Homo sapiens: one gene and its partners. The protein of the gene in region 3 purifies or fractionates together with the protein of the main gene of each other region. This does not show direct contact. Each region holds a gene or a part of one and is shown on either strand. Other genes may lie near its edges. The genes, in order: ERGIC1, RAB39A and RDH10.

What was found.
Region 1: the proteins of RDH10 (region 3) and ERGIC1 purify together in Homo sapiens (affinity purification with mass spectrometry, with the first as the bait; one large-scale study listed by BioGRID). This does not show direct contact.
Region 2: the proteins of RDH10 (region 3) and RAB39A purify together in Homo sapiens (affinity purification with mass spectrometry, with the first as the bait; one large-scale study listed by BioGRID). This does not show direct contact.

Annotation. Positions count from the first base shown.
Region 1 is NC_000005.10:172,931,751-172,935,401, reverse strand, and holds part of ERGIC1 (endoplasmic reticulum-Golgi intermediate compartment protein 1), read right to left. Parts: intron 2,967-3,651; coding exon 2,866-2,966; intron 215-2,865; coding exon 92-214; intron 1-91. UniProt on the Homo sapiens protein: Possible role in transport between endoplasmic reticulum and Golgi.
Region 2 is NC_000011.10:107,934,860-107,938,510, forward strand, and holds part of RAB39A (ras-related protein Rab-39A), read left to right. Parts: intron 1-3,651. UniProt on the Homo sapiens protein: The small GTPases Rab are key regulators of intracellular membrane trafficking, from the formation of transport vesicles to their fusion with membranes.
Region 3 is NC_000008.11:73,297,451-73,301,101, forward strand, and holds part of RDH10 (retinol dehydrogenase 10), read left to right. Parts: intron 1-3,651. UniProt on the Homo sapiens protein: Retinol dehydrogenase with a clear preference for NADP. Converts all-trans-retinol to all-trans-retinal. Has no detectable activity towards 11-cis-retinol, 9-cis-retinol and 13-cis-retinol.

The DNA of each region.
Region 1 (3,651 bases), on a different chromosome or scaffold from region 3:
CGAGAACAGGTGAGGGGTGCCAAGGAAAGGGGCCCAGAGCAGGCGCAGGGTGGCTGGCTCAGGGCCCCACCCACTGCCCCAGGCCACTCACCGTGGTGATGAATCTGTACAGCGGCTGCCGTCTCTCTGTGTACTTGACCGTGATGGGGCTGAGGTCGTAGCGGAACCAGATTGCAGGGATGATGCGGCCCGTGTGGCTGTAGGCGACGTATTCCTGGGGTAGAGGATATAAGAATCAGAAGTACAAACTGTGTCTCAGGGGGGGCGGGGACTGGATTGCAGAGGGCCCCCCAGCAACCCTCCAGAAAGGGCTTTCCTCCCTCTCTGCCCCACGAAGCCAGACTCCCCCACTCCCTCTCTCACATCCCTTCCCCTGGAGGCCCTGAACTCTGCCGTGCACAGCTGGGCATTTTTGATACCCTTGGTTGTTTAGAAATTGACCAAGTGAGCTGCAAGCAGCACCAGAATCAGAAAATAAATTAGAAAGCAGAGCTGTAAAAGGAAAAGTGCAATTTTTGGCTATTGCCTCCTTCAACCTCTGGGCCACGCGAAATCCATTCATTTATTCAACAATGGTTTGCTGAACGCCTCCACTGTGGTGGCCCATGGCTGGCTGCTGGGGACCCCGAGGTGAGCAAGTCCTGCCCTTTACCCAGAGGGAGTCGCAGTCTGCAGAAGGAGGAAGACATAAGAATATCCCTAACACTGTGACATCATGCATGTGGGATGGAGGAACATGGAGAGTTGAGGGGAATGAATGAATGACCCATTCTCCCGGGCGGCATCTGGGAGACTGGGGAGGGGACATTCTGAGCCACACATGATGAATAAGCAGGAGTCCCAGTGTGTGTGTGTGTGTGATGGGTGTAAATGCCACGTGGGGAGTGGGCTAGCTTCTTCAGAGGAATAGACTGAACTGCAAAGCCAGAAGGCCCCGCCCTGCCACCAACCTTCCTGAGAATGCACACAGCAGGGACTAAGGATACTACGAGGCTGAGCTAACAGTGCATCCTTGGGCCAGCCCCTCCCTCCCTCAGGGACTTGGCTTCCCCATCTAAACACGGATGGGCCTGGGATGATGATCCCTGGGATCTCTCCAGTTTGGGCACTTCAAGGTGCTAAAGTCTGCAACAACTGGAGGCCAAATTGAACCACTGGGGTACCCCCAACCCCACATGCTGAGCCTGAGGAGCCCAGGCCACTCCGGGGGTAAGTAACACTGAGCCCTGACCTCCCGCTGGGTCGCTGCTGCCTGCTCCCAGGGCAGAGTGCGGCTGCAGCCATAGAGAAGCTAAGCAAGCTGTATTTGGCTGCTGGGCCTTGCCAAAGCATTGGGAAAAGGAGCTTTGTGCAAGGGAAGACCAGCTTTCTCCAGGAGAGCTGCTGGGGCAGGATGACTGTCTGGGTCACAACCCAGAGCTGAGGGACAGAGAAAAAGAGTGAAAAATAGCAGCAGTCAGTATCACTTACCTAAAGGCTTTTTTTTTTTGGTGGGCTAGGCATTTTTGAAAACATTGCCTCATGTGACAGCACTCTTATAAAGTATCATCTCCATTTTATGAATGAGTAAACTGAGGCACACAGTGGCTATGTGACATGTCCGGGGTCAATAGCTAGTGAATGACTGAGCTGGAATTTGAACTGCAGCGTGGTCCTGAGCTTGCATCTGTGCTTTTCCATCTGTTAGCTGCTATGAGCATGTGAGGGTTACAATGAGATGCCCCCTGTGAAACAGTGAATAAAAGAAACAGGGGCTCCCGGGAACATCAATTTAGGGTGAGTCAGAACAGAGGGACTAAGTCATTGGACAGAGAGCAGCTCGCAGGTGGGCAGACTCACAGCCCCTTCCTCAGACCGAGGCGTGAGGTGATCAAGAAGCCAGGCTCTGGAGCCCAAGGAAAACCTGTTCTAATCCCCACTCAGCCACTTTATAGCTCTACAACCACCTCTCAGTGCCTCAATGGTCAAATCAACAAAATGGGCTCAATAACAGTCTCAACATCAGAGCTGTCATGATGATTGAGAAGACGGAAGAAGAGAGCTTAGCATGTCTAGCCCCCAGGAAGTACTCAATGAGTGACAGCTATGCCTCCTACTGTTGTTATAATTAACTGAGCTAAACAGGTATCACTTATAAGGGGTTTGGGCAGCCTTGGAACAGAAGAAAAAGGACAGTCCTGGTGGTAAGTGGGAAAAACCCATCCGCCAGGGTCTAGCAGGGGCATTTCAACCAACAGGTTTCAAGTATTCATGTCCCATTGGTGGGATACCCCCAGGGAAGCCCAAGGCTGTCTTGTCTTGAGACCACTAATTGCTGGGTCATCCCACTCTGCAGACTCTGACCATGCTCTGCTGCCCACTAAGGCCTGGCGTCTTCTCCATGACTTTGAGTGTTGGGGTCCTGGGGACACCCCTGTCAATCAACAGCAAATTAATCAACAGCCATCTTGGTGTGACTCAGTAGCCTCATGAGTTTGGGTAAAGTGCCTGTGCCCTGAGAGCAGGAGTGTCTGTCTGTGTTGAGCACCCAGGGGTCTGTGTCTGAAGGACTCGGACCAGATGCAGGGCTGTTTGAGACCTGCAACCCCAGGACCTTTGTAGGACAGAGACTACCTGCTCTTTGTCAAACGCATCACACCCTATCTCCTGGTTAGATCTGTTCTCCTTGACTCTGAGACTGCCACATGGCAGGGACTGGGCTTTTCAATTTTACCCAGGGACAGCGCCTGGCCCAAGCTAACCCCCAGGAAAGGCCTCCAGAAAGGAATCAGAAGAAAGTGCGTCGGTGCAGCCGCCTGTCATCTCTGCTCTCCGTCAGCAGAGGGCGCCGCCGCACACAGCTCGGCCCAGCCACCGCCCGCGCACCTTGTTGGCCACCGTGTACTGGTAGGAGTACCGCTGCTTGCCACTCTTGTCCTCATAAACCGTGGGCACAATCTTCAGGATGTAGTCGTGGGAGGCCAGGGCTGCGGGAAGGACACAGCAGAATGAAGCAGGGGGACGGGCACTGCCCGCTGACAGCTCTATGTCATTTCAATCCTAAGCCTAAATTCCCTGGGCACGGCAGGGGGCTCATTCCCCAGTTTTACCACCAACCAACTGCTCTTCATCTTCTCCCCTTGGATACCGGGAATTGGGAGACTCTATCCATCAGGATCTTTCCTCCTGCACTGTGCACATCATTAAAATTCTGGAAACAACCCAAATGTCCATCAATAGAGCAACCATGAAAGAGTGAGTGTTGGCCAGGCGTGGTGGCTCACGCCTGTAATCCCAGCACTTTGGGAGGCCGAGGTGGGTGGATCATCTGCAGTCAGGAGTTCGAGACCAGCCTGCCCAAGATGGTGAAACCCCGTCTCTACTAAAAATTCAAAAATTAGCCAGGCGTGGTGGCAGGTGCCTGTAATCCCAGCTACTCAGGAGGCTGAGGCAGGAGAATCGCTTGAACCTGGGAGGCGGAGGTTGCAGTGAGCTAAGGTCATGCCACTGCACTCCAGCCTGGGCGATAGAGCAAGACTCTGTCTCAAAAAAAAAAAAAAAAAAAGTGTGGGTGCTAGGAGCAGCTATTCTCCAACAGGGAAAAGAACCAAGTCATGGGACAGGATACACATGTGTCCATGGATTGGGGGAGGAGGAGACACTCTGTATCCA
Region 2 (3,651 bases), on a different chromosome or scaffold from region 3:
CGGAGGTTGCGGTGAGCCGAGATTACACCATTTCACTCCAGCCTGGGGGACAAGAGCGAGACTTCGTCTCAAAAAAAAAAAAAAAAAAAAAATAGAGACAGCCTCCCTCCTCTCCCTTCCCCACAGAATCTGGGAGCAGCCCCTAACTATTACCACTAAATCTTCCCGGCCTTTGCCTGCCTCTCCATGTTTTTTCCCCTAGCTCCTCTTCTGCTATGCATCTTTCTCCTTGCCAGGTGTCTTACTGTTACAGGAAAGGGGTCCCGATCCAGACCCCAAGAGAGGGTTCTTGGATCTTGCACAAGAAAGAATTCAGGGCAAGTCTGCAGTGTAAAATGAAAGCAAGTTTATTAAGAAAGTAAAGTGGTGAAAGAACAGCTACTACACAGACAGAGTAGGACGTACCTGAAAGTAGCAGGAGGAACGCATCCGCCCTAGGTACAATGCTTGTATATATATGAGGAGATGTGCTCTCTGCCACAAGGGTTTGTGATAAAGGATTAATTTTCTTTCTTCTTCTTTTTTTTTTTTTGGAGACAGAGTCTGGCTCTGTCGCCTAGGCTGGAGTGCAGTGGTGCGATCTCGGCTCACTGCAAGCTCCACCTCCCGGGTTCACACCATTCTCCTGCCTCAGCCTCCCGAGTAGCTGGGACTACAGGCGCCTGCCACCATGCCCGGCTAATTTTTTGTATTTTCAGTAGGGACAAGGTTTCACTTTGTTAGCCAGGCTTGTCTCGAACTCCTGACCTCAGGTGATTCACCTGCCTCGGCCTCCCAAAGTGCTGGGATTACAGGTGTGAGCCACCGCGCCCAGCTAATAAAGGATTAATTTTCTTAATTACCACATTTTGCAAGAATCGATATTATTATCTTTAAAGCAAAATTAGGAATGCCTTTGTTCTCCAGATATTGGAATATCTGGACACTCCCAAGTCTGGGTCTGTTTAGTAAACATTATTAATTTGTTCCCTTAGCCATAAACATCTAGAGGCTAGGAATGCCCAACTTTCTGGGGAACGCAGCCCAGCAAGTCCTGGCCACTTTTTTTTTTTTTTTTTTTTTTTTTGAGACAGTTTTGCTCTGTCACCCAGGCTGGAGGGCAGTGGTGTCATCCTGGCTTACTGCAACCTCTCCCTCTTGGATTCAAGCAATTCTCCAGCCTCCCAAGTAGCTGGGATTACAGGTGTGTGCCACCATACTCAGCTAGTTTTTGTATTTTTAGTAGAGACAGGGTTTCAGCATGTTGGCCAGGCTGGTCTCGAATTCCTGACCTCAAGTGATCCGCCCACCTCGGCCTCCCAAAGTGGTGGCATTACAGGCGTGAGCCACTGCACCTGGCGTCATTTTCCTAGCCCTTGCTCAAAATGGAGTCACTCTGGTTCGAATGCCTCTGACATTAGTCCCCCTCCAGCTTATTTTTATTTTTTCTTTACCCCTTTCCTCTGTCTATCCATACTGATGTTTACTTTCATCCTCTTCCCCCCACCCCATTTTTATTTTAATGTGTCTCTTACTCTTCCATTTCCTTTTAGCTTATCTTCCCTTATCCCACTGGCTTATCTTCTCTTCTCCCACTGGCTACCGCATGTGTCTGTTTTCTCTTCTGCCTCTTCCAAACATCCATATAAAGTTAATGTTTCAAAGTGATTTAATTTATGTACTCTGTTCTTAATTTTAAAAGCAAGCAATATTAACATTTTAAATTTCTTCTTAAGAGACTTTTTAAAATCTCTAAACTAAATTAGTTATTTTTGGTTTTGTTTCTTTTTAAAAAGTCCCTCATTTGATTCTCAGCTCCCTCACTGTGGTTCATGGCCTTCAAAAGAAAACGATTTTTTGTTCCTTCAGTAGAAAATGATTGGTACCAGTCTGGCAAACATGGTGAAACCCCATCTCTACTAAAAATACAAAAACAAATTAGCTGTGCATGGTGGTGCACACCTATAATCCCAGCTACTTGGGAGGCTGAGGCAGGAAAATCCCTTGAACCCAGAAGGTGGAGGTTGCAAGGTTGCAGTGAGCCGAGATTGCGCCCCTGCTCTCCAGCCTGGGTGACAGAGCGAGACTCCCCCTCCAAAAAAAAAAAAACAAATGAAGAAAATGATTGGTGGGTCCATAATTGCATAGGTAACAGAGCAGAGATGACCATAATCACTGCAGTCTACTGTAGTTCCAAGTTATTGTTAATAGAAAGGTCAGCTATAGTTCTATTATCAGGTAATATAATGTCTTAGTTAAAAGTGTATTGTAAGTAGTAGAAATCTAGCCAAATTCATTTATTTATTTGTTTTTTAGAGACAGAGTTTTGCTGTGTAGCCCAGGTTGAAGTGCAGTGGCACAATCATAGCTCACTGCAGCCCAAACTCTTGGGCTCCAGTGATCCTCTTACCTTAGCCTCCTGAGTAGCTAGGACTACAAGCACATGCTATGGCACCCAGCTAATTAAAAAAAAAAAAAATTTGTAGAGACAGGGTCTCGCTGTATTGCCCAGGCTGGTTTTGAACTTCTTGCTTCAAGTGATCCTCCCTCCTTGGCCTCCCAAAGTGTTGGGATTACAGCCATGAGCCACTGCACCAGGCCCAAATTAGTTTAATAGGGAATAAATTATAAATGATACAGATTTCATGAAAGCAAAAGCTCACTGAACATCCAGGTGTTTGGAAGTATGGAATTATTACTATTTTTTTTTTTTTTGAGATGGAGTCTTGCTCTGTCGCCCAGGCTGGAGTGCAGTGGCGCAATCTCGGCTCACTGCAAGCTCCGCCTCCTGGGTTCAAGTGATTCTCCTGCCTCAGCCTCCCAAGTAGCTGGGATTACAGGCACCTGCCACCATGCCCAGCTAGGAAGTATGAAAAATTTTAAAACAAGAGTTTGTGGACTTCCCCTCTAGTCTATTTCCCTTCTCCAACTCTGTTGGCTCCTAGCTCTCAGTCTCTGAGCCTCTTATTCAAACTCTTGAAAGAAAAAATATCTCATTGACTACTTAACTATCCAGTGAATCAGCTCCCCTGCAGTCAGGTTATTGAGTTACACAGACATATAATACAAATGTATTATAACATAAATATACTAAGTAGGTATTATGGGTCAGATAATGTAAATGTATCTGTAAAGGTCCACTTTTTTGGAAAGAGAAATTCACAGAGAAGGGAAATGAGCAGTCACCCCCAAAGTGTCTATTTTATGGTGTTTGAGAGTAAAATGGTATATAAGAATGAGATGGCCAGGCATGGTGGCTCACGCCTGTAATCCCAGCACTTTGGGAGGCCGAGCCGGGCGGATCACCTGAGGTCAGGAGTTCGAGGCCAGCCTGGCCAACATGGTGAAACCCAGTCTCTACTAAAAATACAAAAATTAGCCGGTTATGGTGCACACCTGTAATCCCAGCTACTCGAGAGGCGGAGGCAGGAGAATTGCTTGAACCCAGGAAGAGGAGGTTGCAGTGAGCCGAGATCACGCCACTGCACTCCAGTCTGGGCAATAGAGCAAGACTCCGTCTCAAAAAAAAAAAAAAAAAAAAAGAATGAGACAGCATCGTTTCTAACAAGTGCACCAGAGTGCCAAAAGATGATCTGTGTAGCCAGACATTTTTAGGCACAGTGGCTCATGCCTGTAATCCCAACACTTTGAGAGGCCAAAGCGAGTGGATCT
Region 3 (3,651 bases):
TTCTTTGCTGGGCCCTCCTTAATGAGAAGGTTGGGAAGGGGAGAGACTTCAGTGCCAGCCTGAAAGCAACCTGTACTCTTTCGCCACAAGGTCTCCTTAGCTCTTCCCTATGGTAAACTGCAGTGTATGCTGGTTACTGTTAGTCGTTTTGTCCCCGCCCACCCCCCCGCCACCCCTAACTCAGTATTTTTGAGAGGGCAGAGGATTGAACATTTTGAACTAGTTTGAAAGATTGCCATAAAAATAACACGAAGGAGCGTAAAACCCTGGGTTTGTTTATTTTACTTTCTGTTGAGTTTATAAAACATTGGTTGTTCTTATGAATTTCTAAAGTCAGGATTTAGGCTTCCAAATTACTGCTCAGCCACATTTTGGAAAGTGCCAAAGATTCTGAAATCAACATTTGTGGTCTGTTGGGAGTGCCCAGGCCACCCTGGCAGTTACTTCGCATCTCCTGACCATCCATTGGGTCCAGGGCATCTTCCTGTTGCAGGACGCTTCGGGACTCTCTCGGGTTAGACAGTGCCTCGCAAATATCACCCTAATAGGACCCTAGAGAGGGAGGCGAGGTGGTGAAACCTGGTAAGCTGGGGATTTAAACAATGTCCGCTTCTAACCATTAAACAATGTCATGATCTACGGAGGGGAGCAGGGCCTTCTGCTGCTCTAGGGGCAAAAGTAACCCCAGTTTTTCATCTCAAGTTGTCTTCAGTAAAGGTAGGTGTGACTCTGTCCCCTATAACTGCACACTGCTGACCCACTTTATGCTCTTTTTCCTCACAGTATTTTCCCTTTCCTTTTGTAGACAGATACGATTCAATAAAGAAGGAGTAAAGAAATAGGATTCTACTTTTTTTTTCCATAGGCGGATTAGCCTTCTAATAGAACACAACAAAGAACTGTTTCTCCTAAATAGGTCACATTAAACCTCATTAATTTTTTAGCAACTGCTTAAAAACTTAATCTGGCATTAAAAGTACTTATTCAAATGTTGCACCTCAAGCATCAAACCTTTTCTCTGCTCTTGGAGGAAGCTTATTTTAATGTTTTATTTTTAAATATGAACTTTATTTATTTATTTATTTATTTATTTTTCGAGATGGAGTCTCACTCTGTCACCCAGGCTGAATGCAGTGGCGCGATCTTGGCTCACTGCAACCTCTGCCTCCCAAGTTCAAGCAATTTTCCTGCCTCAGCCTCTTGAGTAGCTGGGACTACAGGCACATGCTGCCACACCTGGCTAATTTTTTGTATTTTAGTAGAGATGGGGTTTCATGGTGTTGCCCAGGCTGGTTGCGAACTCCTGAGCTCAGGCAGTCCACCCACCTCAGCCCCCAAAGTGCTGGCGTGAGCCACCGCACCTGGCCTGTTTATTTATTTTGAGATGGAATTTTGGTCTTGTTGCCCAGGCTGGAGTACAATGGCGTGATCTCAGCTCACTGCAACCTCCACCTCCCAGGTTCAAGCAATTCTCCTGTCTCAGTCTCCCAAGTAGCTGGGATTGCAGGCATGCACCACCACGCCCGGCTAATTTTGTATTTTTAGTAGAGGCGGGGTTGCACCATGTTGATCAGGCTGGTCTCGAACTCCTGACCTCAGGTGATCCGCCCGCCTCAGTGTCCCAAAGTGCTAGGGTTACAGGTGTAAACCACTGCACCCGGCCAACATGAACTTTATTTAATTCATTTACAAACCTCTAGAAATGAATATATAAATGACCTGAGCTTATATATGTTTTAAACAAGTAAGGAAATCACCAAATACAGTTTGGGCAACTTCAGCTTGCCTGTAGGTGTGTGTTGTGTTCAGTGGGGGTGGGGAACTGAATTAAAGTCCTTGCTGTGGCTGGGTCCCCAGGAACAGGCAGCAGGTGTCAAAGGGGTGGTTAGATGAATAAAAGGCAGTCCAACCAAATAAACTTGACATAGAATTTATCAAGAATCTTGTGTGTTTATGACTAATCCTGAGTAAAACAACTACCATTTGAAATAAAAGACATACATAAGTGGGAGGCGAAGTGTCATTTTCATATTTGAAGAATGGTAAAGATGAAGCTGCCGTAAAAACTGCAGTTGATTTAAGTCAGCCCTAAACAGTTACAGCACTATCAGTAGGTTCATTATGAACCGCAGATACTGACTGGGATTGTTTTCTCCCGTAACCTTTGACTAAGATGATGCAAGACTACATAACTAAACTTTTACCTACACCAGGTATTCTAAAGTTTAGCCATCTTGCCTACTTTGTCTGCATGATTATTTTGCTTAATTGTAAAATTTTAAGTGTAATCAGGTTTTTAAGAAACCCCATACAATCTGCAGTTAAATACTTAAAACAAGAAACCAGCTCCAGGAAGACATCTGATAAAATGAATGCTAATTTAGTGTGTGTAAAGCACAGAAAATTCATAGCCTTAGCTTTGAAAATGCACATAAATTGATATACCGTCTTTCTAATATTAGGCTACTTTTTAACATAAGGAGGAAGTCAAATCAAATCTCTAAATAGAAAAATTATTCTGGACCTGAATCTGTATACCAGGGAGGAGCATAGCACCTTCCTAGAGTCATCACTGTGCTTTGAGATGTTGCTTAACCACACAATTTAAGGAGTTCTTGGAAGCCTTGATGGTAATGACGTCACTTTGTATTAAAATATGGGAGGCTCCTGAATTCTCCAGCTGTTTTTCCCCTAAGCATCTAAACTTAAGAATTTATTTTCAATATTGAGTCAGAAAATTCATTTTAGAGTTGGAATTTCTGACTTCTTGCTGAAATTTACAAATCTTTTGAGAAGTTTTGATTCAGCAACCAAAATTTAAAGGAAAATTCAGTATAGATTTTACAGTGAATTTTTTAACAGGGGTTAAGGAGTGTCACAAGAGCCACCTGAATTCAGCTTCCCTTCCAGTAGTCCTCTTATGCGAAGCGTTGGTGGCAACTTTTCAAAGATGTGTTGACGTTGGCATGTGCTGTTTTCCTTCTAGAAAAAATAATGAGTGTGTCTTTTTACTGTATCTGGGTATGGAAAAGAAGTTACCCCATACATTTTTAAAAGTCCATCAGCTGAGCAAAGAACTGTTCAGTCATTTGAACAGATCATCCTGAACCAGACATTTAAGTAACCGTTAATATCTGTTTTCAGCAGTTAATACCTGTATTTCAACAAGTAGTATGTTGATCCTGACTCAGAGCAAAAGTGAGTGAAATAGAAAACCATGTGGACTTCCACTGAAAAGCTGTGGGCACTCCCAAACCAGTCCACATGCTATTCCCTCTACCTGAAACACCCTCTTCCTCCATTCCACGTGTCTTTTAAGGTGTAGCTCAAGTTTCAATATAACCTTTCCTTCCCACTGCAGCACTTCTGGCATTTTTGGATATTAGAGTTGCAAGAATCCAGAGACCTTCTTGTTCAACCCTTTGTTTTCCAGTGAAGTTGGGGTTAAATGACTCATCTAAGGTTTTTCTTTTCTTTCCATTAATCTCTCACAGCATTTGTTATCATTCTCCCAAAGTAGATGGCAAGCTGTCTGAAGGCAGTTTATTATATACATCTTTCATTTTCCTTTGCCTGGAACAAAACTCTATTCTTTTTTTTTTTTTTTTTTTTTTTTTTGAGACGGAGTCTCGCTCTGTCGCCCAGGCTGGA